Regions from separate parts of the Homo sapiens genome. Here region 1 is linked to region 2. The links come from fine-mapping of genetic effects on plasma protein levels. Region 2 holds a variant in brackets. A gene starts in the other region. All regions are shown on their reverse strands. Region 1 holds the start of CCL21 (C-C motif chemokine ligand 21). Region 2 overlaps LVRN (laeverin).

The links. A credible set is the group of variants that fine-mapping cannot tell apart. PIP is the posterior inclusion probability: the model's chance that the variant is causal. The UK Biobank Pharma Proteomics Project read protein levels with antibody pairs (Olink). The fine-mapping took linkage between variants from a reference panel, not from the people measured, so its PIPs are less certain.
Region 1: CCL21 starts here. The variant in region 2 is the best candidate, but not a certain one, in a credible set for the plasma level of the CCL21 protein (UK Biobank, PIP 0.59).

The regions. Positions count from the first base shown.
Region 1 is chr9:34,701,386-34,716,610 of GRCh38, reverse strand. CCL21 (C-C motif chemokine ligand 21) reads left to right here and starts at 6,475. Exons shown (of 4, transcript NM_002989.4): 1 at 6,475-6,611; 2 at 6,714-6,834; 3 at 6,929-7,111; 4 at 7,184-7,606. The coding sequence starts at 6,545. The coding sequence ends at 7,217. It also overlaps a transcript of PHF24 not described here. RefSeq lists a silencer at 14,882-15,201.
Region 2 is chr5:116,006,178-116,020,559 of GRCh38, reverse strand. It overlaps LVRN (laeverin), which reads right to left. Exons shown (of 20, transcript NM_173800.5): 14 at 9,666-9,819; 15 at 8,092-8,186; 16 at 6,033-6,140; 17 at 5,141-5,308; 18 at 4,795-4,932. Among named protein-coding and RNA genes, the nearest start is that of ARL14EPL, 19 kb to the left of the region's middle. The variant A/C (reference allele first, on the strand shown) is at 10,012.

The DNA.
Region 1 (15,225 bases), not on the chromosome of region 2:
TCTCAACAAAACAAAACAAAACAAAACAAAACAAAACAAAACAAAGCAAAACAAAACAAACAAAAAAGGAGAGAGAGAAAACTTAAAAGCAACCTCCAACACAAAATTTATCTCCTTGGATTAAGATCATTTAGGATTTAGGTTAAGATCTCCTCACTCTTAATCCAAATCCTAAATGCAAGCAGTGCCCTACTCCAACCCTAACACAATCCTCATCTAAGATACGCCTGTTTCTATCAACAGGAACCGCAAACCCAATTCCAAATCCTACTTTAACATCACCATGATTCCAGCCCTATCCAATTTGGAACCACAACATCAATGCTGTTCTAAGCATAATCCTAACTCTAACCCTAACCCTTGGTAGAGCTACACATTGATGAATGCATGCAACTACACTAGACACACACATTTTGCACACTTATGACTCCGAGAAACTGAGTAGCTCCTTCAGTAACGGCTGCACAGTCCACAGGGCATCTTATTTCTAGAGGGCTCAATGCTCCGCTGAGAACCCAGGAGCAGCAACGCACCCAGGCCCTTTGACCTTTGTTGGATATACAGGCCCATGGGCCCCAGCCCACCCCAATCCTATTCCAGGACTTGCCTAGCCCTTGAGCTGAAATTCCCGCCATACCCCTCCCTGGCTCTTGCCTGCCAAGCTGGGAGCATCTGCTGCCCTGGAAACCCCACCAGGCAAGAGCAAACGGGCCTGAGACTGAAGGGAATGTGGCCCTTTCCAATTAGGGGATTTCCAGACTCTTGCAACACCCACACCTAGGATGTCTACTCCAGGTGCCTGTCCTAGAGAGGTAGTGGGCCTGCTGAGGTAGGTGTGAATAAGCACACTTCCTCTCCCCCTCCCAGGATCTCAGTCTGGTGAATTCATCATCACGGGTAGGGCTGAAATCAGCCATGTGTACCTCCTTTATCCTTCACCCCAGGTACCAGTGAAGCACTCCTCTGCACCTAGGCCATCCCAGAGGTTGTCACAAAGTAGCCAGTTTCTCTCAGGAGCTCACCAAGCCAACATCTTCACCCAGAGGACTGGAACTGTAGGTGGAGACCCACATCTCGGATGTGCAGCCATCTGAGTCTTTGTGTCCCCTTCCCCAAGCTCTGCATCCAGCCTGGTCTGAGGACTGAGAGGAGCTTGGGTCAAAGCTGCAGGCTCCAAATCCCCAAACCCAGCTTACAGTTCAAGTGGGGCTGTGGGGTACAATAAACCCAGGCCAGCAGCTGAGGGCAGAGGAATGGCTCAGAAGACTTGGGGTCCCAGAAAAGGGTAATGGCTCTCTCATCATCCGAGCTCCTCACTCTCTTCTACCCTGCTTCAGTGCCTCCCTCTCACCACCCCTGCCACCAGGTCCACTCACAGACTGGAGACGGGGTAGGGACTCGCTATCCCATCCTCACTCTCAGGGCAGCTGTTTTCTGCGCTGGATTTTGTCCAGCCAGGTTTCCACCTCCAGAAAAGCCCCTACTGCTTCCTTCATTTCCCTTAGGGCTCCTAACCTTGATTCTAAGCTCCAGCACCAAGCAGACAGACCTCAATATCTCCAGGATGTAACATCTCCCTGAGACTGCTCTACCACTGCAGGCTCAAGTTCACAGGCAGGGGCTTAGGGTTGATGCCTAATCAACCTAGATTCCTGCATCTAGGAAGACCAGGCAGAGATGGGACCTAGGGGGTTGTGCACACCATCTGACACAACAAGAAGCTTCTTTCATGGCATGAATAAGGGTAAGGGAGACAGGCAGGTATCTTGGAGAGAAAGCAAGCCTAAGCTTTTAGGAAAGAAAAAGGTACAGCCCCCTCCTCTTCCCTGCCATCTCTCCTTTTTTTCTACAATCTGTGCCAGGCGAGAAAGTCTCCTCCTCCAGGGGAGGTAGAGGGGGCATCACTCCAGCTTTCCTTTCCCCAGACCAACTTTGTTCCCTTTCACCGGCTCTGTGTCAATCTAGAGTGTGGGATGGGGAGCAGAATAGGCCCAAGTGGCTCTCCCAGCCCCACCCCACCAAATGCTTAGAATTACCTGCAGAACTTGGTAAAAATACACATTTGTTGGCTCTATTCTGAGATTCTATTTAAGGCGGTCTGGCGTGTTGCTTCTAATTCTGTTTTTAAAAAGTCACCCAGGTGATTCTGAAGTGCAGCCAAGTTTGGAAGCAAACTAATATAATATGACTTCGGAATTATCTGCATGCCCCCTCCCAAGCCCATGCTATTCTATCTGTCTGAGAATTCCTCAGAGACAGGCTGCTCACTACTTTCTTAGTCACTCCCATTAGGCAGGTGGGGAAACCAGGGAGCTGGGAATTTAAAACTTTCTGGTTCCAGGATCTGCCTCTAGACCAGGTAAAAGATCCAAGAAATCTTATCTCCTTGTTTTTGCCTAGTCTTGTTCCAGGAACACCAGCTTCTTGCCAACAGAGTCACTCCCTGCCCTGCTTAAGGTCTCAGCCTTAAGGTCTCTTGAGTCTGAAAACCTCAGACTCAAGAGCTCAATTATTTCTCCTCTAGGCCACCAAATTCCAGCCCCTCTACTCTGTGGACCTTAGAATGAAACACCACCTCTTTATCCCCCTCCCAACAGTACCTCCATCTTCAACCCCATGCCTTCTGCATCCCATCCTTCCCCAAGAGCAACCCAATATTTCTGTCTCTGGCCATGGCTGTCCTGACTACATCTCTCCTGACACTCATTTCCTCCTCTTCCTATGGTTTCCCTATCCTGTCATAAGCCATCCTTCAAAAAACAAGATGTAAGGAGCTTGCTGCTGAGTTTAGCACTCTGGAAACCAGATGGATTCTCCAGCTCTGACGTGAGGATTACAACTCTAAGGTCCCAATCCAGTATTAAATATAGATTCTAAGTTATGACCCAATAACCCTCACACATCATATACCATAATAAACTCCAAATGGATAAAAGATTTTAAAATGTTAAAAATTAAACTACAGAAAAACATCATACAAAATGGCAGAGTAAGAAGTTATAGGGGTTGGTCCCTCCACCAAAGCAACTATTGAGGTGGAAAGAGCAATTGGAATCGACTCTTTCAGAAGTCTGGAGCCCGATTGGACACTTATAACAAGCAGGGGGGGTGGTACTTGATGAAGGGAGAGGTTGCTGGTCTTTCAGAAGAGAGCATAATGCATGCACTAGCTACCAACCAACACAGTGGGGATAGCAGCCCACATTCCTGAAGTAGCTGGGTGGTCACTGAGTGGGCAGGGGGAACCCTGTCCTCCAAAAATGAGGGGTTTTGCATTTGGGTTTGTCTTCTGGTTCCCTAAGGGACAGGCTTGCTTTGTTTCAGCCCTCTTGGGCTTCAGGATCTTCCTGAGCCACATATATCAGAAGATTTAAAGGGACAGAATCTTTTTGCGGGGAAGGAAGAGAACCCTTTGTCAGGTCATAAACAGAAATTTCAGTAACCCCACAAAACAAAGAATACACACTTTGCAAAAAACCGTTTGAAAAAGTCACCACAAATTGATGGCAGAGTTCTCAACAAGTGTATATCAGCAATCCCTAAGGAGTGAAAAAATTGAATTTCTAGAGATACCACACTGTAATATTCAGAATGCCCAGTTATCAACAAAAAATTACTAATACAAAGAAATAGGAAAGTATGGCCCATTCACAGGAAGAAAGGAATTTGACAGAGACTATCCCTGAGGAAGCCCAGATATTGGACATAGTAGATGAAGACTTTAACTGTCTTACTGTAAATGCTCAATAAATATTGATGATGGGAGGTTTGATGATAAGGGTGAGAAGCTGAAATCTCAAATACTGCTTTGTTGCTTGTTTTATTATGACCTCAAATTAAATTGGGAAACAATGGCCCTTTTGGAAAAAAAAAATAACTGTCTTAAATATGCTCAAAGAGCTGAAGGAAACCATGGGCAAAGAGTTAAGGGAAATCTGAAAAATGGTGTATGAACAAAATGAAACTATCAATAAAGAGATGGAAATTAGTAAAAAGAAAAAAAGGACTCAAGCAGAAATTCTGGAAGCAAAAATACAATAACTGAAATGTACAATTCACTAGGGGCAATCAACAACTAATTTAAGCAGAAAAAAAAGGATCAGTATTCTTGATGATAAGACAATTAAAATTATCAAGTATGAGAAGAAAAATAAACGAGCCTCAGGGATACCATCAAATGTACCTCATCACAGGAGTCTCAGGAGGAGAAGAGAGGGAACAGGGCATTAAAAAAATTGAAGAAATAATGACAAAACATCTGAAATCTGATGAAAAGCATGAATATACATACCCAAGAAGTTCACAAACTCTAAGAAGGATAAACTCAGAGATCCACACCAAGACAAATTATAGTCAAATTGTTGAAACCCAAAGATTTTAAAAGCAGCAAGAGAGAAGTAACTCATTATGTACAAGAGATTCTCAATAAGATTACCAGCTGATTTCAGAAACCATGGGAGGCCAAAAGACAATGGGGGATATATTTAAAGACTGAAGAAAAAAAAAAGTCAAACAAGAATTCTATATATCCAGCAAAACTATGCTGCAAGAATTAAGGAGAAATAAGACATTTCCAGATAAACAAAACTTAGGAAGTTCATTAATAGTAGACCTGCCCACAAGAAAAGCTAACGGGAGAAAGAAAAAACAAACAAACAAACAAACAAATGCTAAAGGAAGACCTTCAGAATGAAACAAAAGGACAAAAAATAATAACTCACAGCCACACAAAGAAACAAAGATCTCTGATAAACATAACAACATAGCAGGCTGGGCGCAGTGGCTCATGTCTGTAATCCCAGCACTTTGGGAGGCCAAGGTGAGCGGATCATTTGAGGTCAGGAGTTTGAGACCAACCAGGCCAACATGGTGAAACCCCATCTCTACAAAAAATAGAAAAATTAGCTGGATGTGGTGACAGGTGCCCATAATCCCAGTTACTCGGGAGGCTGAGGCAGGAGAATGGCTTGAACCCGGAGGGTGGAGGTTGCAGTGAGCCAAGATCACGCCACTGCACTCCAGCCTGGGCGAAAGAGTGAGACTCTGTCTCAAAAAAAAAAAAAAAAAAGTAACAACATTGCCAGGTATGCTGGTTCACACTTGTAATCCCATTACTTTGGGAGGCCAAGGCGGGTGAATTGCTTGAGGTCAGGCGTTCGAGACTAGCCTGGGCAACATAGTGAGACCTCGTGTCTACAAAAAATACAAAAATTAGCCAGGCATGGTGGCCCCACTACTCAGGAGACTGAGGTGGAAGGATCACTTGAGCCCAGGAGGTCGAGGCTGCTGTGAGCTGAGATTGTGCCACCGCACTCCAGCCTGGGTGACAAAGCGAGACCCTGTGTCAAAAAAAAAAAAAAAGATAAAAGCTAGTATTGTATTTTTAGTTTGTAGCCCCACTTTTTTCTATATAATTTAAAAGGAAAATGCATTAAACAATAATTATAAATCTATGTCAATGGGAACACAATGTATAAAGATGTAATCTGTGACAATAACAATATAAAGAAGGGACTAAAATGTATACGAGCAAAATGTTTATATACCATTGAAACTAAGTTGGTATTATTCAAACTAGGTTGTTATCAGTTTAGAATGTTAATTATAATCACCAAGGTATCCATTAGGAAAATAACTACAAAATATATAGAAAAGGAAAGCAAAGGGGAATCAAAATGGTTATGCTACAGACCAGGTGCAGTCGCTCATACCTATAATTCCAGCACTTTGGGTGGCCAAGGCAGGAGGATCGCTTGAGCCCAGGAGTTCAAGACCAGACTGGGCAACATAGCAAGACCTCATCTCTAGAAAAAATAAAAATGAAAAATGAAAACAGTAGCCGGACGTAGTGGCATGTGCCTGTGGTCCCAGCTCCTCAAGAGGCTGAGGCAGGCAGATCATTTGAGCCCAGGAGCTCAAGACTAGCCTGGGCTAGACATCGTGAAACCTCGTCTCTACAAAAAAAAAATAGAAAAATCAGCCAGGCGCAGTGGTGCTTGCCTGTAGTCCCAGCTCCTGGGGAGGTTGAGGTAGGAGGATCACTCGAGCCCAGGAGGCGGAGATTTCAGTGAGCCAAGATCAACCACTGCACTCCAGCCTGGGTGACAGAGTTAGACCCTGTCTCAAAAAAAAAAAAAAAAAAAAGAACTCTTACAATTTAATAATCAGATTTGCTGGAAGGAGGGGAAGGGTATGGATCCTGGAGCGTAGTGAGGAGACAGTCATGGTGTTCCAGGGGAGAGGCAGTGAGGCCTGCATGAAAGCAGTAGCTGGGAATAGAAGGAAGGCTCAGGCCCAGACATATTCAACTAATGAGGACATAAAATTTGGCAGCTGAGGACTGTCCACTTAGTTTGAGATAAGTGGGGCTGGGTGCCAGCAAATCCAGCTTTCAGGAAGGAAAAGGAGTGGGGATAAGTTAAGGGAAGTGAAAGTGTCTAGCTACATAAATAGCAGGCCAATCCCAGCCCACGCACAGACCCCCAACTTGCAGCTGCCCACCTCACCCTCAGCTCTGGCCTCTTACTCACCCTCTACCACAGACATGGCTCAGTCACTGGCTCTGAGCCTCCTTATCCTGGTTCTGGCCTTTGGCATCCCCAGGACCCAAGGTACCAAGGCAGGGAGGGGCCTTGCATGGGGCTAAGGGGATCAAGAGGCCTGGATAGGAGCTTGCCAGCAGCCCCTGGCTCCCTGTGAATCCCACCCTGCAGGCAGTGATGGAGGGGCTCAGGACTGTTGCCTCAAGTACAGCCAAAGGAAGATTCCCGCCAAGGTTGTCCGCAGCTACCGGAAGCAGGAACCAAGCTTAGGCTGCTCCATCCCAGCTATCCTGTGAGTGGACACAAAGGGGTGGGTACTGGCTGGTGACGGGGTGGGGAGGGCATGGTGGGCAAGACTAAGAAGGCTTACTAGCCCCCACCCGCAGGTTCTTGCCCCGCAAGCGCTCTCAGGCAGAGCTATGTGCAGACCCAAAGGAGCTCTGGGTGCAGCAGCTGATGCAGCATCTGGACAAGACACCATCCCCACAGAAACCAGCCCAGGGCTGCAGGAAGGACAGGGGGGCCTCCAAGACTGGCAAGAAAGGAAAGGGCTCCAAAGGCTGCAAGAGGTGAGGAATCTGAGGGATGTGGGTAAAGGGGAGCCTCAGTCAGCCCCTCACACCCCTCTTCTGCCCTCACAGGACTGAGCGGTCACAGACCCCTAAAGGGCCATAGCCCAGTGAGCAGCCTGGAGCCCTGGAGACCCCACCAGCCTCACCAGCGCTTGAAGCCTGAACCCAAGATGCAAGAAGGAGGCTATGCTCAGGGGCCCTGGAGCAGCCACCCCATGCTGGCCTTGCCACACTCTTTCTCCTGCTTTAACCACCCCATCTGCATTCCCAGCTCTACCCTGCATGGCTGAGCTGCCCACAGCAGGCCAGGTCCAGAGAGACCGAGGAGGGAGAGTCTCCCAGGGAGCATGAGAGGAGGCAGCAGGACTGTCCCCTTGAAGGAGAATCATCAGGACCCTGGACCTGATACGGCTCCCCAGTACACCCCACCTCTTCCTTGTAAATATGATTTATACCTAACTGAATAAAAAGCTGTTCTGTCTTCCCACCCAAGTACCTGTTCCCATGTGTTTATGTCCACCGAGATGCCAAGGTTCCTACAGGGTGGGGTCACACACTCTGAGCCGAAAGCTCAGGCTGAAAAATGCTATGTTCTCATCTACCCCAAGAGTTTCCTTGCCTCTCAGGTGCCTGCACCCCTGAGCAGTTAAAGGGAGGCTGAAGGACAGGGTAGGACCCAGTCTTCTGAGGCATCCTGCCAATGGAGAGGTGGTGGACATGGAGCACACACCCCCAACAGCTCTGCAGACCTCTGAGACCCTGATTCTGTCCTGCACTAACTCCAGGGGTGACCTTCGGATCTTTTCCATGACCTTCAGACCTTTCCCCAGATATCCCAGAGGCTTCCTCTCTTTTCCCTGGGAACTATTCAATGAGACCCTCCAAGTGGTTCTTTGGAAGGGTCCCTAGGAGGGAAGCTGTGGCTTGGGCCCATCTATAACACAGACAAACACAAGTTATATTGAAACCTGCCCTAGCACAGTTCCAGCCCTGAGAGAGCCCCTGGGAGGCAAAGACCCGAGGGGACTTGCTTCAGCCCTATTCAGTGAAGCTCGGGCCTTGACCTCTCCTCTTTGTTTAATGGGGCTGTTGTGCTCTCCTTCTATTCCTATCTGGGCCCCTGGACTCACTCAGCCTCCTTCCAGATGGAAAAACCTCCTCCCTTTTTTTTTCCTCCTTTCTTTCCTGGCTGGGATCCAGACTACTTTAGCCCATTTAACCCTTTGAAGTCAAGGAATAAGTCTCCTGGGGCAGGTTTTCAGAACCCCAGGATTCAGGTGTGAATCAGTCTCCTCTCCTGGAAGGCCTCAGATGGCTCTCCTCTACCTCTTCCTCCCCAGAGTGAAGACCCTTCTATTCCCCAAATCACCTCCAGGCGGGGAGAGTAGAAGCCATCAGATTGGGCCAGACAATGTGAGAAAGAAGGGAACAGATCCTGGGGAAGGGCAAGAAAGGTAGGAACCTCAAGGCCGGGCGCGGTGGCTCAGGCCTGTAATCCCAGCACTTTGGGAGGCCAAGGCAGGCGGATCATGAGGTCAGGAGTTCCTGACCAGCCTGGCCAACATGGTGAAACCCCGTCTCTACTAAAAATACAAAAATTAGCCGGGCATTGTGGCGGGCGCCTGTAATCCCAGCTACTCGGGAGGCTGAGGAAGGAGAATCACTTGAACCCAGGAGGCGGAGGTTGCAGTGAGGTGAGATCGATTGTGCCATTGCACTCCAGTCTGGGCGACAAGAGCAAGACTCCATTTCAGGAAAAGAAAAAAAAAGGAGGAGAAGAAGAAGAAGAAAGGTAGGAACCTCAGAAGCTAGAAGTGGCTGCTCCATCAACTTTTCCTTCTGTAGGAGCCTGAGTATGCCACAGCACTTACCACCTATCCTAACATCCTCAAGTATTGGCTTGTCTGCTCCTCTTGCAGCAGGTGAAGACAGGGCCTCTCCCCTGCCTGTCCTAGGGCAGCAGGTGTGAAATTAATCTATAAACTCAGATATGCAAGAAATACTACTTTTGAAATGTTCCTTAAATGAACTTAATTCCTACTCCAAGCTACTGCACTAGAGTGCTGATGAGAAATTCAACATCAGGCACTCTTGTGGGATCCCACCTGCCAAGGGTTATGCAAAGGTCACAGAAACCTCAAGGCCCAAGGGAGGCCTCCTACCTGCCTCCTACACCATCCTATCATTGGACATCAGTCTCGCCAGTGAGTGTTCTGACCCCTGTGGTTCCAGCAGGTATATCTCTTCAAGTCCTAGACTCCACATTTGAGACATAAGAATTCAGATATGACAGCCTCTGGGCTTGGACTTGACCTCCCCAGATACCCCCGAAGCCATCTACTCAACAGTCCTGTCACTTGCCCCATCACAGACAGAAATTAGAGCCCAGTGCCCACTCTGGCTGGATGTACACACTAATCCCTTCGCAGTCCTAAACAATTGTCTCCCTCTCCTCAGCCCCTCCAGGGCATAACCTCTTCCCCAAGTTTACAAGTTTACTTTTTTTTTTTTTTAAGGCTTGCTTTGTAGTCCAGGCTGGAGTGCAAAGGTAGGATCATAGCTCACTGTAACCTCAAACTCCTGGGCTCAAGGGATCCTCCTGCCTCAGGCTCCAAGTTGCTGGGATTACAGGTGTGAGCCTCTATGCCCGGCATTTTCCCCTGGTGTAAGACATTTACAAAAGGCCTTTGACGTCAGGCTCCCTTTGACATCAGGACATCACTCCCAGCCCTGCCAAAACTCTTGCCTACTCTATAGTGAAAAGAAAAACATAGGCAGAAAAAACAAAACTCTCTATTTCACTAAATTCTCCTGCCACACCTGCATGCCTGGTATTTGCCTCAAGCCCTGCTCTGAGTAAGCATGCAATATATTATTTATTCCATCAGATCATGACTGGCCACTCTCCTTGTCTGCCTTCATCTTTGACAACATTGTCCTGTTCTTTCTCTTTTCTCTCTTATTCTCTTGATGCATAATTCAAAAAATATCACATAATACACACTCACAGTTAAAAAATATATCCAAAAGTACCAAAAGGTTTATTCTGAATAACATAATTTCCTACAACTTTAACTCCTATGCTATTTCTTAGTGCCATATGTCTAAGTACTTTGCCTATACCTCTGTTTCTTGATTTACCTATTTTAAACATTACCAGATGACTTCCTACTATAAAAAGTGAAGATCTAACTCTCTTGCCAACTCTCCTCTCCTGTCACTGCATCCTCTAAATATAGTCATACCATAATATTTAGATCATGATTATATTACCATATTTAGATCATAATTACAGTTTATATTATTGTGGATTACTATTACATAATATGTATTATCACATATTACATTATTTTGACTATATAAATGTTCTCTGCAGACAAAAGTAGTGCACTTTTCCTTCGTCACTCATCTTTTTGTTTTTCTTAAAGGTTCTAATGCCCTTCCCTTTTTAAAATACCTCTATCTTGACATTGCCTTTCAAATTCTTCATCATATGAGATGGATTCAAAACATAATGTTTAAGATATACGTAGAAGAAAATATAGGTGAATGTGGTTATAACTTCGAGGTATAAAATAACTTTTTTTTAAAATAAAATGGAGACCAGGTCTCACTATATTGCCCAAGCTGGTCTTGAACTCCTGGGCTCAAGCGCTCCACCCGCCTCAGCCTCCCAAAGTGCTGGGATTACAGCCATGAGCCACTCTGCTTGGCCAAAAAGAGTTTCTTAAACAAGTCATAAAACCATAAAACGTAAATCATTAAAGATCAACACCATTAAATTTAAAAACAAATCGGAGTTCAGGGTAGGGATGGAAAATTAATTACATGCCTTTATTTTCACTTCTCACTGAGCCCCGACTAAAACTACAGTAAATTTTTTTGGTGCATGTATGCGTGTAAAGGCATAAAGCAAGGCCAGGCGCAGTGGCTTACGCCTGTAATCCCAACACTTTGGGAGGCCAAGACGCTCACTTCAGCTCAGGAGTTTGAGACCAACCTGGGCAACACAATGAGACCTCGTCTGTACAAAAAATAAAAAAAAGTAGCTGGTGTAGTGGCATGTGCCTATGGTCCCAGCTACTCAGGAGGCTGAGGTGGGAGGATCACTTGAGCCTGGGAGCCATATAGCCTGGGCTAAAAAGTGAGAGACCCTGTCTCAAAGTAAATAAATTAATTTTAAAAATAAAATAAAGGCATAAACCCCCAAGAGCCCAAATGGGAGAGGAGATAAAGGTAACTTTCCAAAAGCCTACTGCTGAGACACGTAAATATTTCAATAAAAATAGATACAAAGCATAAAATCAAATTATAAATATGAAGGATTTCTAATGTCTTATTCGTGAATACAGTAAAAATTCATATTTACTGAATATTCATATGCCAGTATCCAACAGGGAAACAATGACTTCTACTAGAGATGTAAAAAAAAAAAAATCCTAAAGATGAATTATCTCTAAAATCTACAAAATCTTCATTCCTTAAGCATGAAAACTCATTTTAATCCCTGGAATCCTGACTTTTCTTTATCACAGAACCACAGAAGCAATTTATTGCTTTAAAAGTGAGTTATCACTATGTTCTAACAATGAGTCCTCCTCAGTGTCATCCAGAAAATTACTAATACCATGTATTTTTGTTGTTTTTATTTGCTCCTTTTTTGAGATAGGGTCTTGCTCTGTCACCCAGGCTGAAGTGAGTGGCGCAATCTCAGCTCACTGCAACCTCAACCTCCTGGGCTCAAGCAATCCTCCCACCTCAGCCTCCTGAGTAGGTAGGACTACAGGCACACACCACCACACCCAGCTAATTTTGTTCATTTTTTGTAGAGACGAGGTCTCACTATGTTGCCCAGGCTGGTCTTAAAACTCCTGAGCTCAAGGGATCCTCCCACCTTGGCCTCCCAAAGTGCTGGGATTACAGGTGTGAGCCACTGTGCCTGGCCATACCATGTTTTTAAATAATTTCACCACTATCTCTTCCACAAAATGATAACATACACACACACACACACACACTAATGAAATCATGGGCTGACTCCCACTTGTCAGTGTTGCCTCAGAATCTCCTCCTGCTTCTCCCGGTTCACTCCTTCCTTGTCAATATTTTAAGGGCTTCTTTGATACAGATATAGAGGATAGGTGGGACTAGTAAAGAATTAGAGCTAGCTGGGCATGGCAGCTCACGCCTATAATCCCAGCACTTTGGGAGGCTGAGGTGGGCAGATGGCTTGAAGCCAGGAGTTTGAGACCAGCCTGGGCAACGAAGCAAGACCCCTGTCTCTACAAAAAAAAAAGAAAGAATTAGCCAGGCACGGTGGCACAGGCCTATTGTCCTAGCGACTTGGAGGCTGAGGTGGGAGGATCACTTGATTGCCTAGGAGTTCGAGGCTGCAGTGAGCTATGATCACACCATAGCTGATCATAGTGGAGCAATACCCCACCTTTAAAAAACAAAAAATTAGAGCTAATAGATCTCAGGCCAGGAACCGTGGCTCATGCCTATAATCCCAGCACTTTGGGAGGCTGAGGTGGGAGGATCTCTTGAACTCAGGAGTTCGAGGCTGCAGTGAAAAACAAACAAGCCTCAGTTAGTCCTATAAACCTGAAACCAATTCCAAAGTAAGCAGTCGGCCAGGTGCGGTGGCACACACCTGTAATCTCAGCTCTTTGGGAGGCAGAGGTAGGAGAACGGCTTAAGCCCAAGAGTTTGAGATCAGACTGAACAACATGGCAAGGCCCTGTCTCTACATTTTATTACAAGAAACTTTTTTTTAAGTGAAAGCAAGTTTATTAAGAAAGTAGAGGAATAAAAGAATGGTTACTCCATAGGCAAAGTAGCCTACAAAAAAACTCTTAAAGAGTAAGCAATCAGATTTCTTAAGAACCCCTCCCTTCAGGATACTTGGGCCACACTTTGGCTGGCCACAATTCCTACTTATTAATGATATCCTTTTAGAGGGCTGTGATTACCAACAACTGTCGGGTTCTTTCTTTTGATACCTTTCTTTTAAAAATTAAAAATAATGGGCTGGGGGCAGTGGCTCATGCCTGTAATCCCAGCACTTTGAGAGGCCGAGGCGGGTGGATCACCTGAGGTCAGGTGTTCGAAACCAGCCTGGCCAACATGGTGAAACTCCATCTGTACTAAAAATACAGAAATTAGCCAGGCATGGTGGTGGGTGCTTGTAATCCCAGCTATTCGGGAGGCTGAGGCAGGAGAATTGCTTGAACCCAGGAGGTTGCTGTGAGCCGAGGTCACACCATTGCGCTCCAGCCTGGGCAACAGAGCAAGACTCCGTCTCAAAAAAAAAAAATTTAAATTATGGGGCTACCAGAATGACACACTAGGTATCCTCTACCATGCCAAATGACCTAGTGGGAGTCAGAGGGGTGGGGTCTGTCACTTGTTGTCTATGAAAGGTGACATTAATTTGTTTCCCAGCTATAATCGCTTACCTGTGAAATATGTCTTAAGCTTCAGCTGGTATCCTTTGTGAAGTTCTTTTTCTTTCTCACATCCAGGCATTACTTCTCCTTGTATCTGGGGACAAAATAATGCTGTTTTGTTAAAGTCATCAACGTTTCTATCCTTTGCCATCAGTCTTGGGCTGGATTACCATTTTTATGGATGCTGAAATTGCCAACTCTCTTTTTTTCTAACGCCTATATTTGTAATTCTTTTTTTGAGACAGGGTCTTACTCTGTTGCCCAGGCTGGAGTGCAATGGTGCAGTAATAGCTCACTGCAGTCTCCAACTCTTGGCCTCAAGGGGTCCTCCAGCCTCATCCTCCCAAAGTGCTGGGATTACAGGCAAGAGCCACTGTGCCAGGCCTATATTTGTAATTCTTCTAGTAGTGCCTACTTTAAGGGGAATTGTATGACCTTGTGACCTTGGTGACCTACGTCTATTGCTATGTCAAGAAGCTGAAAGCTCTGTTTTCTTCAAGACAACCATTTCTCAGTAGGCAGCAAACTAAAACACCCCAGAGAAAGTCTGTTACCATATTCTTTGAGACTTTTGCTTTAGAATCATGGGTTGTGGTAATAATAAATTTCAATCCAATATTAAGAGAATAACTGAACACCACTTGTGAAGGCCTAAGCAGCCAGCGCCAGCTTCTGCTCGGAGTATCCCCTGCGCTGTGTGAGCCTCCGCCTGCTGGGAGGCGCTCACTGCCCCGCTCGGCCACCAGGAGGCAGCAGTCCTCTGTCTGCTACAGGAAAACAGGAGTGGGGGTTGAATTTTCCATTCTCATTTCCTTCATCTTTCTAGGACCAATTTGTTTTCAATTATTTTCACGATTTGTTCTCACATGTGTCTCATTCTAGGCCAAAGGTTGCGCGTTTCCCTGTGTCCACTTATGGGCAAGACAAGTTCCTTTTCCGCCCATGTCAGGCTATAGCCCTTCATCCTCCAGCCCCAGCCTCGCGCCTAATATATTTCCTTGGAATAAGGAAACCTTTCTTAGCGTTGGCCCCGTAATGAGTGGTGTAAGATATCTATCGGGTGCGAGCGAAGTGCCAGAGGTGATGTGAACCCTCCTTCAGCCTTTAAGCCAAACAGTAATTATTTCAAGACTTCAACATTGGGCACCTTGGGCTCTGGGTAAATCGGGACTATTTGGGGCGTGGGAGGGAAAGATAAATGCTTCATATTCGCCGACAAACACGGGCCTTCCCCCGGCCACCGGGCTGGGCCGGCCCCGCAGAGGACCCCCGAGGCTCGGGGGCCTGGGTGGCAGGGGTTTGGCCGGACGGCGGTGTCCTGGCCCGGGGTAACTGTCGGCCCAGGTCATCGGATGCGCGGGCACCACCCACAGCCCGAGCCTCCCCTCCATACGCCCGGCCCGCGCGCGGGGACCCCAGGGACGGCGGGGCCAGGGAGCCGGGAGGGCGCCAGAGGCTGTTCCAGGCCCAGGGACTTCGGACGCCCGCTCACCGCAGCCTCTCTGAGGAGCTCGCAGGGTCACAGCCGCATGCGCCCACCCCTCTGCCGCAGCCGCGCCCCACTCCAGAGCCTCCCTTCCCAGGCTCGGGGCGCCCCCTGCAGGCCCAGGAAGGGAGATGCATGGGCACGCTCACGGGCGCGGACACACATCCGCACACATG
Region 2 (14,382 bases):
TAAGCTTAAGACTTTAGGCTATATAATAACATGTGGAGAAAAAAAATCAAGTGCTTAGTGAAGAGGGTAAGATTCATTTTGGACAGGTTGAGTTTAAAACTGATCATGCTCTGTATTCTATATTCAAATAAAAGTGGTTTTTCTGTATGCTGTGAAGCCCATTTAACAGAGATGATAACGGAACAAATAATGCTTCTACCACATCCAGTGGAAAGTCACAAAAATACTATTGCTTCATCACTATTCACATGCTTTCATAGGACCTATTCATAGCTATGTGTACCTACTGACTTTTCTGTAACTTGAAAGTAGCTTTATGACCAATGGAGTCTTTCTCATTGGAATGAGTATTCAAGAGATCATCTTTGGCCCAATAATTAACTAAATTTTCCCACACCAACCAGTATAATGCCCTGTACATGAGAGTGAGGGGCAAGACCAAGACCAAGCCAAAAGTTGTTTTATTTAATCAAATATTCCAAAATGTATTTCCAGATTAGGCTTTCTAGGAAGAATTCTGGGCCTGGCTGAAAGGAGCAGCGGTTCCTGCACTGCTATTGGCGATGTACTCAACTCCAACATGTGCCTTGGTGTGGAGACGATGTCTGTGAGCTTGCCTGCATGTCACTGTGAGACATATGCCCATGAATGCTCTGAGACAAGGGAGAGATGTACTCAAAACCACAGCACTGGTCACTTCATGCCCAGGGCCAAGCTGGACCTGAGATGGTATTTGTTTGTTTTTGCATTTAGGCAAGCTGCCTCTGCCAGTCTGTCTCTCACCCTGTAGAAATGGAGCACAAGATCCCAGCAAGATACCACCTTATGGGAGGGGCGCAAAGCCCCTCTGCTCGTACTCATGATGATGATTCTGGCTCCCACAGCCAAGACCAAACTAGCAACCAAAAACTCTACACATTAAAAAGCAAAAACAAAAATAAAATGAAATCTTCTGGAATAAGAAGTAGATTATTCAAACATTTTCATAAAAAAGCAACTGACTATGGGCAGAGGGAAGGATGAAAGTATTCTGTATGATGCTACAATGGTGAATATGCATCATTATACATTAATACATCAACACCCGTAGAATGTGCAACACCAAGAGTGAACCCTGTTGTAAACTGGGGACTTTGGGTGATAATGATGTGCCTGTTTATATTCATCAATTATAGTACAGCTATGAGCCACATAACAATGTTTCAGTCAACAATGGACAATATGTATGAGGGAGGTCCTACAAGATTAAAAAGGAGCTACAAAATTCCTATCCCCTAGCAATGTCATAGTCATTGTAACATTGTAGCACAATGCCTTTTAGCACATTATCTTTTCTATGTTTAGATATGTTTAAATACACAAATACTTGTCGCTGTGTTACTACTGCTTCCAGTATTCAGTAGCATGCTGTACAGGTTTGTAACCTAGGAGCAATAGACTATACCATAGAGCCCAGGTGTGTAGTAGGCTCTACCATCTAGGTTTGTGTAAGTACAGTCTATGCTGTTCACACAATGACTAAATCACCAAAGGATGCATTTCTCAGAATGTATTCCTGTTGTTAATCAACTCGTGACTGTAAATGTGTGGCTCTGATGCAGGATGTTGATAGAGGGGGAGGTTGTGTCTCTGTGGGGAGAGGGATATATGGGAACTCTGTCTGCTTAATTTTGCTGTGAACTTAAAACTACCCTAAAAAATTAAGTTTATTAATTTCTTAAAAATCAACTGAAAAGTCACTTCATTTATTTAAACATTTTCTGGAATTGAGATAAATAAATCACGTCATAAGATGAGCTTTCTAAGTAAAACAAATTTAAAATATTTGAACAAATCTTGGCATCTCAAAATGTTTAAAAGATATAGCATATCTTTCTTTTTTGGAGATGGAGTTTTGTTCTTGTTGCCTACCCAGGCTGGAGGGCAATGGTGTGATCTCGGCTCACTGCAACCTGCACCTCCCGGGTTCAAGCGATTCTCCTGCCTCAGCTTCCTGAGTAGCTGGGATTACAGGCATGTGCCACCATGCCTGGCTACTTTTGTATTTTTAGTAGTGACGGGGTTTCTCCACGTTGGTCAGGCTGGTCACGAACTCCCGACCTCAGGTGATCTGCCTGCCTCAGCCTCCCAAAGTGCTGGGATTATTACAGGCGTGAGCCACCGGAAATGTAGATGAGGCATTAGTTAAGAACACATTAAAAGATTAAATATTTTCAGTAGTACTCTCATAAAATAAATAATTAAGAAGTATGCATTTTCTTACTTAGGAGAAAGTAAATAGAGAACCGGGAATCAGAGCCAGGGGATACGGGTTTAATTCAAGTTCTTTTGTTTACTAGGTATTGACTTTAAGTAATTTAACTTCTGAGTCTTGGTTATTAATTGGCAATTATTTTATGGGTGGCTGTGAAAACTGTAATTATTGCATATATAAACACGTTATTTTAATTTTTAAATTTTTGGTAGAAATAGAGTCTTTCTATATTGCCCAGGCTGGTCTCAAACTCCTGGGCTAAAGTGATCGTCCTGCCTTGGCCTCCCAAAGTGCTGGGATTACAGGCACGAGCCACCATGCCTAGACTAAACATGTTATTTTAAAGAACAACATTAATGTGTGTTTCATTCTAAACATGAGACTCTAATACTGCTGAGGGATGTTATAAATTTCATAAAAATAGAAACTGACAATATTGAGAAAAAGAAATAAAGTGAATGATATAGGGACTTGTAATAAAGCAGATACATCATATTATCTCAGTAAGATAATAATAATGAACATTAAACATTTATTATGTACCAATCACTTTAAATAGCACATTATTAAATTATCTTAAAGCCTATTCATTATTATCCTCACTTTATGAATGAGAAAGCTGAAGCTTAGGTTAAAAATCTTGTTTAAGGTTACATATTTAGCACTCTCCTCATCCTAAGATTGATCTGATTCTAGATTCTATTGCCTTAACTCTTTGACATACCATATATCTAGTGGATACATGAAAAACTAAACACAATAAATAAAAGGACAAAGGACAGTAATGAAGAGACACTTTCCATAGTTCTTAGAGGAAGAAACCTCCACTTTGCTACACTGCTCTAGTTAAGTCTATCCCCATGCCCCGATTCTAGAATTGACCTCCAATAGTGTTAACACATTGTCATAATCAGGACAGCCTGTGTGTGCTTCACATACGACACCAGTTAGAAACAAGACATCACCAATGAAGAGCACACAAAATAAAACTGCTTCACATGATATTCAAGGCCTGTTAACCCCTGTCCTTCTCTCTGAGCCTCAACTTACCTTCCCACTCCTAACTCCTCTCCAGTGCTCTAAGCTCTTGCCAGTTACTGTGACTAGTCCCAAGTTGGCCTCCCAACTCTGCCTCCAGGCATTTCCTGGTGTTCTGTCCTCCAGGTAGAAGGAGGAGATTTGCAACTGTGCTTGTTCAAATCACATGCACATCCCTTTCTTCCCCTTAAATCCCCAAAAGCCCTTGCCATCTCTCCTCTACAGCATTTATCAGATACCAAGTCCTAATCCTTTTACATCTCCAATAACAATTTGAACTGCACCTTGATGTAGAAGGACTAAAACTTTTTATTACTAGAAAGAATCTTAGAATTTATCAAATACATCTATTACTCTATAGAGAAGAAAACAAGGCCTAAATGTTAACTAATGGGTTTTTTTTTACAGTTCCAGAACCAAATGAGAGGGTTGGAAAATTTTGTTTCTCCCATCAGTCTTTCTTCTGGAACAACTGGTCTACTGGCAAAATGACGTTTTGTTTACATCAGCATATCCCAAGCTGGAGTTTGGAAGAACTATACCTAGAAGACGCTATGTAGTCAAACTGTATGGAAAACTCTAGGTTTCCTTCTGCAGGGCTTCTTGTAGACTTTATAAGGCTAAAATGCACTGTGAGTCTGCAAAAGTGAGGGTTAAAACAATTTCAGAACTGACTGAGCTATTGTCTCCATCTGTCCCAGAAGGCTTATCATCCCCATCTTCGTAAGTAGCATGCAGTGGAATGTGCGTCAGAAAAACTAAGTGCTAACTTGTTAGTGATCAGTCACATTTTAGCAAATTCAGTATAAATACTTTCCACACCATTAATATAAAATTTAATTTGGCATAAGGATTTTTTACTTATAATTTTATACTACCTTCATCATTACATGAGGACTAGTGACATACATATTATCATGTCAAATATGTCTGTTTAATTAGTGATAATTAAATATTCAGATGTATAAAGAACTAAGTAAATATTCCTGTGTCATTTTGACTATAAATAAAATTTTAGTTATTAAGTTGAACTTTTATTTCCTTCTTACAATCCATAAATAATGTAACAGTCTATTCAAACAAAACTATTAGCAAAATTGAACAAAACTGCTGAATATAAACTAAGCCCTAAAAATAAATGCATAAGATGTAGAAAGCAAATTAATTTGAGTCTGAAACATTTTGTAGCAGAATTGCAAGAAAAGTGAACTAAGGCAAATTCACCAGAAGTAGAATAGGCAACTGTTTTATGAGTATGGCATGTTGTCAACTAAAAGATAAAAATATTCAAGCCATAGTTAAAAGTTCATGTATTGCTCTTCCATAACACAGGCAGTTTGTAGTGAGACTAAACAAAGGAAAAATGATAACTTTTCTAGTCAATGCAAAGGACGTTTGTGGCCTAGCTAGACTAAAGCTGAGCTTCCAAGCTAGACTAAAGCTGAGCTTCCAGTGCCAAACCAGTGGCCTAAATGAAAGAAAGGTCTCACTTTCCTTCTTACCTTTTACTCACAGCTTGCCAGTTGTTGACTAAGAAGTCTTTTGCGACATACCGGCCAACTTCAGATGAAGCCACAACCTCAATTATATTTGTTTCATTAGAAGTGAATGGAGATGTGCTGATGGCATACTCCATATATCTGCAAAAGTGCATTTTCAAAAAATACATTTTAAACATCCAACATAAAGAGTTAATTTAAATAAACAAAATCAAAATCCCATGGTTCTAAGGTAGTGAAGCACAAATACGCAACGTTTTAATACTTACATTAGCACATTTCTATTTTTTTTCCTTTATTAATTTAATTCCTATAACAGAAACTTTCAAGGTAAGTTGACCATAATCACCTGTTAAGTATCCATGGGTCTTTGCTGCAGCTCATTGCATAAGCAAGTTGAATCTTTTCTTCTTTGTTTGTTGTATTAGTGTAAGTATTTAACAAGATGTCCCACTCTTTATCACTTCCCAAGGCAATGCCATAACATAAAACCACATCTTTAATTGGATAAGGTATTCTGTAAAATATAACATAAAATGATATTTTTCATAGTAGTTATGTTTACCCAGGTTATCATATTTTAGAAGTATGAATCTAGAAAAAATATTTATAGTCACAGATATAAAGGTCAAAAGTAGGAATCTAGAGAGGCAATTATCAGAACTGTCATTAGCATTAGTTCCATGAGAAGAGATCATCAAATTCCAAACTAAGGGGCTTTAAGAAAGAAGTAAATTAGAATAGTATAGAGTATATTGATAATACAAGTTGGTCTTGTATCTGATTATCATGTTTCCTAAGAGTCCATCCGAGGTGCTATATCAAAGGTAATAAAACCAAAATGAGAGTTTCAGAGCTCAGTGAGGCAACAAACTAAGAGAGAGATGGAGAGAGAGGTGCTCTGCTGCACTCATAGATATAACAATCATAAACAATCATAAAGAACAACCTATTAAGACTCAAAACAAGCATAGACAGCTCAAAGTAAGTGCTTATTGGAAGAGTGCTTTGGCAATGAGAGGTCCTAGGTGACAATTCATTGTATAAATTCTAGTCTATCGTTATACACAGACCCACATTAAACACTGGTTTTTTAAAAAAGGTATTTGAAAAGAATAGTAGGAGAGAGCGCCTAACCAAGTGAAAGCAAAACACTCATTCCCACAGTGAGTACATCAAAAAGGGAAATTGCTGGTGCTAAAATAGGACAAAAACAAGAGGAATTATGATATTACTCTTACTCATTTTCTGGATGATCCACCCATTTTGCGAAAAGTTCTTTTGACAGCTGAAGGCAGTCTTCAAGGCCCAACCAACACGCAGTTACAAAAAGTTTTTCCAGTGATATTCTTGAAGAAAAAGTCAAAGAAAAACAGTTTATTTTGCATTACCACCTTCATTTTCTCTGCCTCCAAGAATATGTGTTTCATAAAAAGATGGGTATTTTTAAATATCCTTTCAATGACATCAGGTTTGTTTTAAAAAATTGTTTTTGTGGATGACAGATGTATTTAAGATTCAGAGAAATATTTACTGAGAGGCTCTTAGGCACCAAAAAGAGCTCCTAAAGCCAGTATTTTTTGAAAGTTAGAAACAAATTACTGCCATCCTTCATCTCCCTTAAACACACATGGGTGTACACACTCTCCACAGCTGTTGTCAATTTATTTTTCCTGTCTTTTACTGCAATTGCCTTATGGATAAAAAATGATTTCAGAGTATCTAATCTAATAGACTTTAAAATAAAGTTCTTTCTCTATAAAAGAAAGGGAAAGGGAATAGTTCATTTCTCTCCTTCTACAATTTGTTTTCTTTTGCTTTAGTGTGTTTCTTCTACTCCTCCTGGCTGTTACATACATGTTCAGGAAAAGAATAAAGGTGTTTGGTTGGTTTGATTTGTTTTCACAGCTGAGCAGGGGTGTACACTGTACTTCAAAACAAAATAAGTTCAAAAGAATACAGTGAAGACCAATAATAAATCCAGGTAAGTGATGCCTTGTGGTCCCTACTCCAGATTTGCGGTCAGGGTAAAGAAACCCAAATTGGTCATAAGTTTCCAGAAAACGCAAGCGCCAAATCTCTGTTACTCCGTCCTCCAGTTTCAACCCAGCCTGGCCTGACCTTCTGATAAGCTGAAGAGGAATGTGCAAGGGTGGAGGTCCGCTGAGAGACAGTTCTAGGCATTCATTTACATACTCTACTCACCCCCTCTCCTCACCCATCCCAATCTCAAGCCGGTAGCAACAAGCTGGAGTTCTGTGGAAGTGCAGTCTAACTCCCTAGAGCTTCTCTGAAGAGAACTGTCCCTGGGATGCTATAAAAAGTAGGCTACTTCAGTCCAATTTAGGAGAGCCAAGGAAATGTCTGGTTAACAAATGTGCTGCCTGATTGAGCACACTTTTGCCTTCCCACTCATTCATACAGATTGCCTAACCATTCTTGATCCCAGCTAGTCCTTACCATTGTCCACCTACTCATGCATTACATTTTATGTCCTTCTAATCACATCCCTTAGCACTAAAATTTCTGCCCTCCCAGAAGAGTACTATTGAGACAGAATAATCATACTTTGTATATTTTGTATTTCTTGCTTGGTCTAATTGATTTGAACCTGATGTTTACCAGAAGTTGTAGGTATAATCCCTATACCGTTATTGGCTACAGAGTCCCTCCCTATATCTAGAGACCATCCTACACACAAAACTTAGGGCACAGGGAAGACAGAAATACTACCACCCCATTTTGCCTCTTGCCTCCTTCCTAGACCACCATGACAATATGCTTACTCTCCTCACCAAACCAGTAATATGAAAGTCATTTGTGAAACTAACTTGTGCTCACAGACCTATAGCAGTGACTGATCTATATCACTGTCAACCTACTTCATCTTACCTGCATAATGACTGAATTTCTGTTAATAATAAAATACAGATGGGACCTTTTCCCCTGTGGCTTTCCCACGCCCTTCAACTCACTGGTATAGGCTAGCTTTGCTTAGTACATCTTCACCAATAGTAGGACACATTTATAATTTCAACCAGTAGTCTAGGCTTTGAGAATATAGAGCTATAAGCTCCTATGTGTACATGCACGTGCTTTGCAGGTAAATTAAGATCTCAAACGATTAACTTCTGTTAGAATACATGTAGCCCACCAACCTCTGAGCTATTGTTCTCAAATAATAATAGCATATAAAATCTCTCAATGAATAACAGATATGAAGATTTTATTTTATTACTTCTGGAAGCCTATTAATATGAATGCATTTTATTCAATTATCACTTCTGAAAACATACTTACAGAGCTAAGTAGTCATCTTGTAATGCCAACACATTTTCACGAATTATAGTTGAATAAATATTCCATATTAAATTAAGTCTCTTTAATAGGTACCTCTATAAACAATAAAGAAAATACACTGTTAGTTCTGGCTTGCAAACACTGAATTTTCACTGTGTTTCTATTTATTTATCTGAAAAGACATTGATAGACAAGTGGCAGATATTTCTTCAGAAATTACCTTTATCTGTTACTAAATATATAACTGGTTTATTTTTTAACCTCTTTCGGTTTAGTTCCATTTTTCATAAAATGTGGTTTACCATAATACCAATGTTACAGTGTATTATGAGGATTAAATAATATAATATATTGCAAGCACATTGCCTGGCACAAAGCAAGAACTCAAAAAATATTGGCTATAATGATCATTTAACATCATCCCATACATTTCCAGTTATGTTCAAAATAGAGAAGAAATGTAAAAATATAAAATAGCCTTTCTACCATAAAACATCCATGCTAAGTATACATTCCTCAAAAAAAAAGAACTGGTTTATGTCCTGGACACACTGAAGCCCTAATTTTGAAATAAATATAAGCTATTAGCTGGTAAATATAAAATTATAAAAGTTAGACATTTACTAATACATCCCTAAGAATTAACTAGCTGCTGTTCATTGAAATTCTTTGAAAACAAATATTAGTTTTACTTCTTTACCCAGAACAAGTCATCAGATGTTATCAACGAGCCTCCTCAATCCCACCAAAATTTTAGTGCCTTCTTTTATTAATCACCATCCCAAGCTCAGCTTAATTCCCATTGGTACTTCGGCCACTAGGAAAAAGAAAGTCTGGGGCCGTTAGACGTATTTGTGATCTCACCCTCTGAATGGTCCAGAAATTCACTTGAAATCATTACCTAACATACTTTTTGGTTTGTGTGACCCCTAACTCCCCAAAGAGGGCTACCTAACTTTCGCTTTGATTTTACCTTTGCTATTTTTTCCTATAATTACTGTTTAAGATCTAAAAATGGAAATTTTTTTTTCATTTATTATGGCATGTCATTTCTCTGTTCAGTAATTCTAATTTCTCTCTTTCTTTTCCTAATATCAAAAGCATCTTCAAATTTTTACATTTTCTGGAATATATCTCTCTGGATTTAAGTGCTGTTCCTATGAGTCAGAATATTGAAATTATAAACACAGAGTTGTTACATTTCATTCTGGCTGCCTAACAATCTCTTAGGAAAATAGTTGCTAATAAATACTATCCTTTTCCCTAAAAAAAAAAAAACAGGCATACCATTTCCATCCACTTCTGGTTTCTTAGGACATACTGTCACTTCACCAAGAATGAAGTACCCTTCCAAACCTCACTCATCTCCTAGACCAGGTCTATGACTAAGGTATTTTCTTCTAAGATCAATCAGCCCTTGTTAAGGAAATGTATATACTTCCATATATATATATATATATATATGGAACTAAGACTATTACTTTGGAAAAGACCTGTCTCACAGATGCTGGCTAAAATATGAAAAGAAGAAGAGAGGATTTATTTAAAAACTACATAAGAAAGAATGAAATTACCTTTAATAATGAGTATATATCATAGATGTTCACCTCAGAAACAAGATCCCTGGTTACCAAGTTTACCAAGACTGTATGCCATACTATAATTTCATCTTCTTCAGCAAGGTACTTGGTTAACTCAAGTGCTGTTTCAATCTCAATATAATTGTTTCTGTTTGATTTAAAAACACACACACTCAAAAAACCTTCACTTGCTAAGTAATTTGCATACGTTCGATATTTGTTCCATGTTTCAATGCATGACTTCAATAAGGCATGTGAATAAGTCAAGAAACGAGAAGGTAAATGTCCCATCTTATAGAAAGGATGAAACCCAAGCAAAGTTGACAGTCCTTCCATTTCA[A/C]TTTGGTACTTTCAAGTGTCCAAAGTCTTGAAGGCTAGAGAAAATTCAGGCCAAATGTTGGACTGATTATTAGGAAATAGAAGAGTTATGCATTCTGTATGCATTCTTATGACAGCATAATTTGCATTCAACAAATATTAATTAGAAGTCATTCTCTATCTAATGCTCTGACAGCTACTGATGTGCACACCAACTACAGGCATACCTCAGAGATATTGTGGATTCTGTTCCAGACCACAATAAAGCTAATATCATAATAAAGCAAGTCATACAATTTTTTTGATTTTCCAGTGCATATAAAAGTTATGTTTACACTATACTGTAGCCTATTAAGTAGCAATGGCATTATGTCTAAGAAAAACAGTATGCACACCTTAATTTAAAAGTAGCTTATTGTCAACGAATGCTAACAACAATCTGAGCCTTCAGCAAGTCATAACCTTGGCTGCTAACTGATCAGGGTGGTGGTTGCTGAAGCTGAGGTGGCTATGGCAATTGCTTAAAATAAGCAACAATAAAGTTTGCCAAATTGCTCAATTTCCTTTCACAAAAGATTTTTCTGTAGTATGCGATGCTGTTTAATAGCATTTTACCCACAGCAAAACTTCTTTCAAAATTGGAGTCAATCCCCTCACACATCCTGCTTGCTGTTTTGACAACTAAGTATACGTAATATTCTCAATCCTTTGTTGTCATTTCAGCAATGGTCATAGCTTCTTCACCAGGATTAGATTCTTTCTCAAGAATCCACTTTCCTTGCTCATCCATAAGAAGCAACTTCTCATCCATTCTAGTTTGATCATGAGATTGCAGCAATTCAGTCGCATCTTCAGGCTTCACTTCTAATTCTAGTTCTATCACTATTTCCACTGTATCTGAAGTGACTTCCTCTACTGAAATCTTAACCCCTTAAAGTCACCAATGAGGATTGAAAACTTCTTCAAAACTCCTGTTTATATTGATTTTTTTTACCTCCTTTCATGCATTGCAAATGTTCGTAATGGCATTTGGAATGATGAATCCCTACCAGAAGATTTTCAATTTACTTTGGCCAGATTCATCAGAAGGATCATTATCTATGGAAGCTATAGCCTTACAAAATGTATTTCTTAAATAATAAGAGTTAAAAGCAGAAATTACTCCTTGATCCCTGGGCTGAAGAATTGATATTGTGTTAGTGGGCATGAAAACAACATTAATCTCCTTGTACATCTCCATCATAGTGCTTGTGTAACCAAGTGCATCATCAATGAGCAGTAATATTTTGGAAGGAATCTTTTTTTTTCCTGAGCAGTAGATCTAAGCAATGGGCTTAAAATATTCAGCAAACCATACTGTAAACAGATGTGCTGTCATCCAGGCTTTGTTTTTCCACTTACAGAGCACAAGCAGAGTTGATTTAGCATAATGTTTAAGGACCCTAGGATTTACAGAATGGTAAATGAGCATTGGCTTCAACTTAAAGCTACCAGCTGCATTAGCCCCTAACAAGAGAGTCAGCCTGTCCTTTGAAACTTTGAAGCCAGGCATTGACTTGTCCTCTCTAGCTATAAAAGGCCTAGAGGGCATCTTCTTCCAATATAAGACTGTTTCATATGGAAAAACCTGTTGTTTGGTGCAGCCATTTTAACAATTATCTTAGCTAGATCTTCTGGATAACTTACTATAACTTCTACATCAACATTTGCTGTTTCACCTTGTACTTTGTTATGGAGATGGCTTCTTTCCTTAATCTGCATGAACTAACCTCTGCTAGCTTTAAACTAGCACCTTTTCCTGCACCTTCCTCACCTCTCTTAGCCTGAATAGAATTGAAGAGAGTTAGGACCTTGCTCTGGATTAGGCTTTGGTTTAAGGGAATATTGTGGCTGGTTTGATCTTTTATCCTAATCAATGAAACTTTCTCCATATCAGCAATAAGGCTGTTTCACTTTTTTTTTTTTAATCATTCATGTATTCACTGGAGCAGTACTTTTTAATTTCCTTCAAGAACTTATCCTTTGCATCTACAATTTGGCCATGTGGAGCAAGAGTCCTAGTTTCGGCCTATCTCAATTTCAACATGCCTTCCTCACTAAACTTAATCATTTCTAGCTTTTGATTTAAAGTGAAAGATTCAGGACTCCCCCTTTCACTTGAACCCCTAAAGGCCATTGTAGGGTTATTAATTGGCCTAATTTTATTTATTTATTATTATTATTTTTTTAGACGGAGTCTCGCTCTGTCACCCAGGCTGGAGTGCAGCGGCATGATCTCTGCTCACTGCAAGCTCTGCTTCCTGGGTTCATGCCATTCTCCTGCCTCAGCCTCCCGAGTAGCTGGGATTACAGGTGCCCACCACCACACCTGGCTGATTTTTTTTGTATTTTTAGTAGAGATGGGGTTTGCACTGTGTTAGCCAGGATGGTCTTGATCTCCTGATCTCGTGATCCACCCGCCTCGGCCTCCCAAAGTGCTGGGATTACAGGCATGAGCCACCACACCCGGCCCTAATTTCAATAGTACTGATTCTCAGGGAATGGAAACGCCAAAGAAGAGGGAGAGAGATGGAGGAATGGCTGGCCAGTGCAGCAGTCAGAACACACACAATTATTAAGTTTGCTGCCTTATACAGGCATGATTCATTGCACCCCAAAACAATTACAGTCATAACATCATCAATTCCTGTTCACAGATTACTGTAACAGATATAACAATCATGAAAAAGTTTGAAATTTTGTAAGAATTACCAAAATGTGACCCAGAGACATAACATGAGCACATGCTGCTGGAAAATGATGCTGATAGACTTGCTTGACTCAGAGTTATCACAAATCTTCAATTTGTAACAAATGCAATATCTGTGAAGTCTTAAAGCAAAGTACAATAAAACGAGGTATGCCTGTAGTACATATGACACTGCACTTGCCTACCATTGAGGAGCTTCAATGAAGAGATGAGACTTATGCATAAGAAACCAGTAATGAAAGGTCCCAAAGGCAGTGAATACTACAAAGTAGCAAAGAAGGAAAATATGCACATATAAAAGTCAGGGATAAGATAGAAAAGTCAAGGAAGGCTTCATGGAGGAGAAACTTGAGAAGAGCAGTGAAGGATGCATAGGATTAAAATAGGTAGAAAAAGAGGAAGGCAGTCCAGGACAAATAAGATAAGGTGGGAATTAGTGTGATGGGCCGATGAAGCTAACTGAGGCAGGGGATTTCCTTTTTGTATAGTGAGAAATGGGGCCTAATAGGTAAGTTGGCTCAAACCTGTGAAGATCCTTGAATGTCAGGATGAAGAGTTTAGATTAGGTGGAAAGGTACTCTGGGTATTTAAACAATTGGAATAGCATAATGAAATTGATGTCTAACAATTTTATTGCAATAGTGTTAAAGAAGACAGAATGAAATTCAAAAGGACCGAAGGCTGGAGGCTAATTTAATAGGCCAGGCAAGAGATGATGAAAGCTTGGCTTAGTGTGGGAGCAGTGAAAGTGGTAAAGTGAGCCTCCAAAAGACATTTCTAAGAATGAAGAGATAGGACTTGGTGACTGTGCATGTAAGATGAAGCAAAGAGAGGAATCAAGGATATCTCTGAGGTTTCAAGTTTGGGTGATGAAAAGAAGAGTAACTTTGACATGCAGGGAAAAATTGATAGCAAGAGCAAGGTGGAGACAAAAATGAAGTTCAGTGTTTAAGGCACTGTATTTGTATGACCACAGGATAAACCTAAGACAGGGGGAAAGATAAGTAGCAATGTAGATTTGGAAGTCATCAACATGTCCTTCCGCAAACATTTACTGAGGACCTTACATCTGCTGGCACTCTACAGATACGTAATAAAATGGTCACCAAAACCCTAGAGTGAATGAGTTATCAAAGAAAAGATAGAAGAAAGTAATGTAACCATGATTGGTCCTAAGAAGCTCACAGCAGTAGAAGAGGAGTCAGATACATGAGGAGAACCAGGTTTGCATATCAGAGTCTCAGGAAGCCAAAATGACATTTTCAGGTGGATGTAGTCAATAATAGCAAAGTCATGGTGATCTTAGAGACAGAGAGAGGAATTTCAGCCAAGTATTAGACAAGGAAATGTACTGTAAGTCACAGAGGGAAAAAGGAGGAAAGAAGGATAAAATAAGTAGACATTTATTCAAACAATACGGCTGGCTAAAGAAAGAGAAAAAATACTAGATAATGTATTACATATATTCCTTAATTTTATTGCCTGAAAATTTAAATTCTGAACATTTATTAATTTACCTGGTTAAACACTTAGCAGCATATCTTACACTGAGTAAATCTAATATAAATAAAATAAATAATTCTGCAATATATTAAAATACAGGCAAGATTGCATTAAAATTATAGCCATCACCCTTGGAAAACA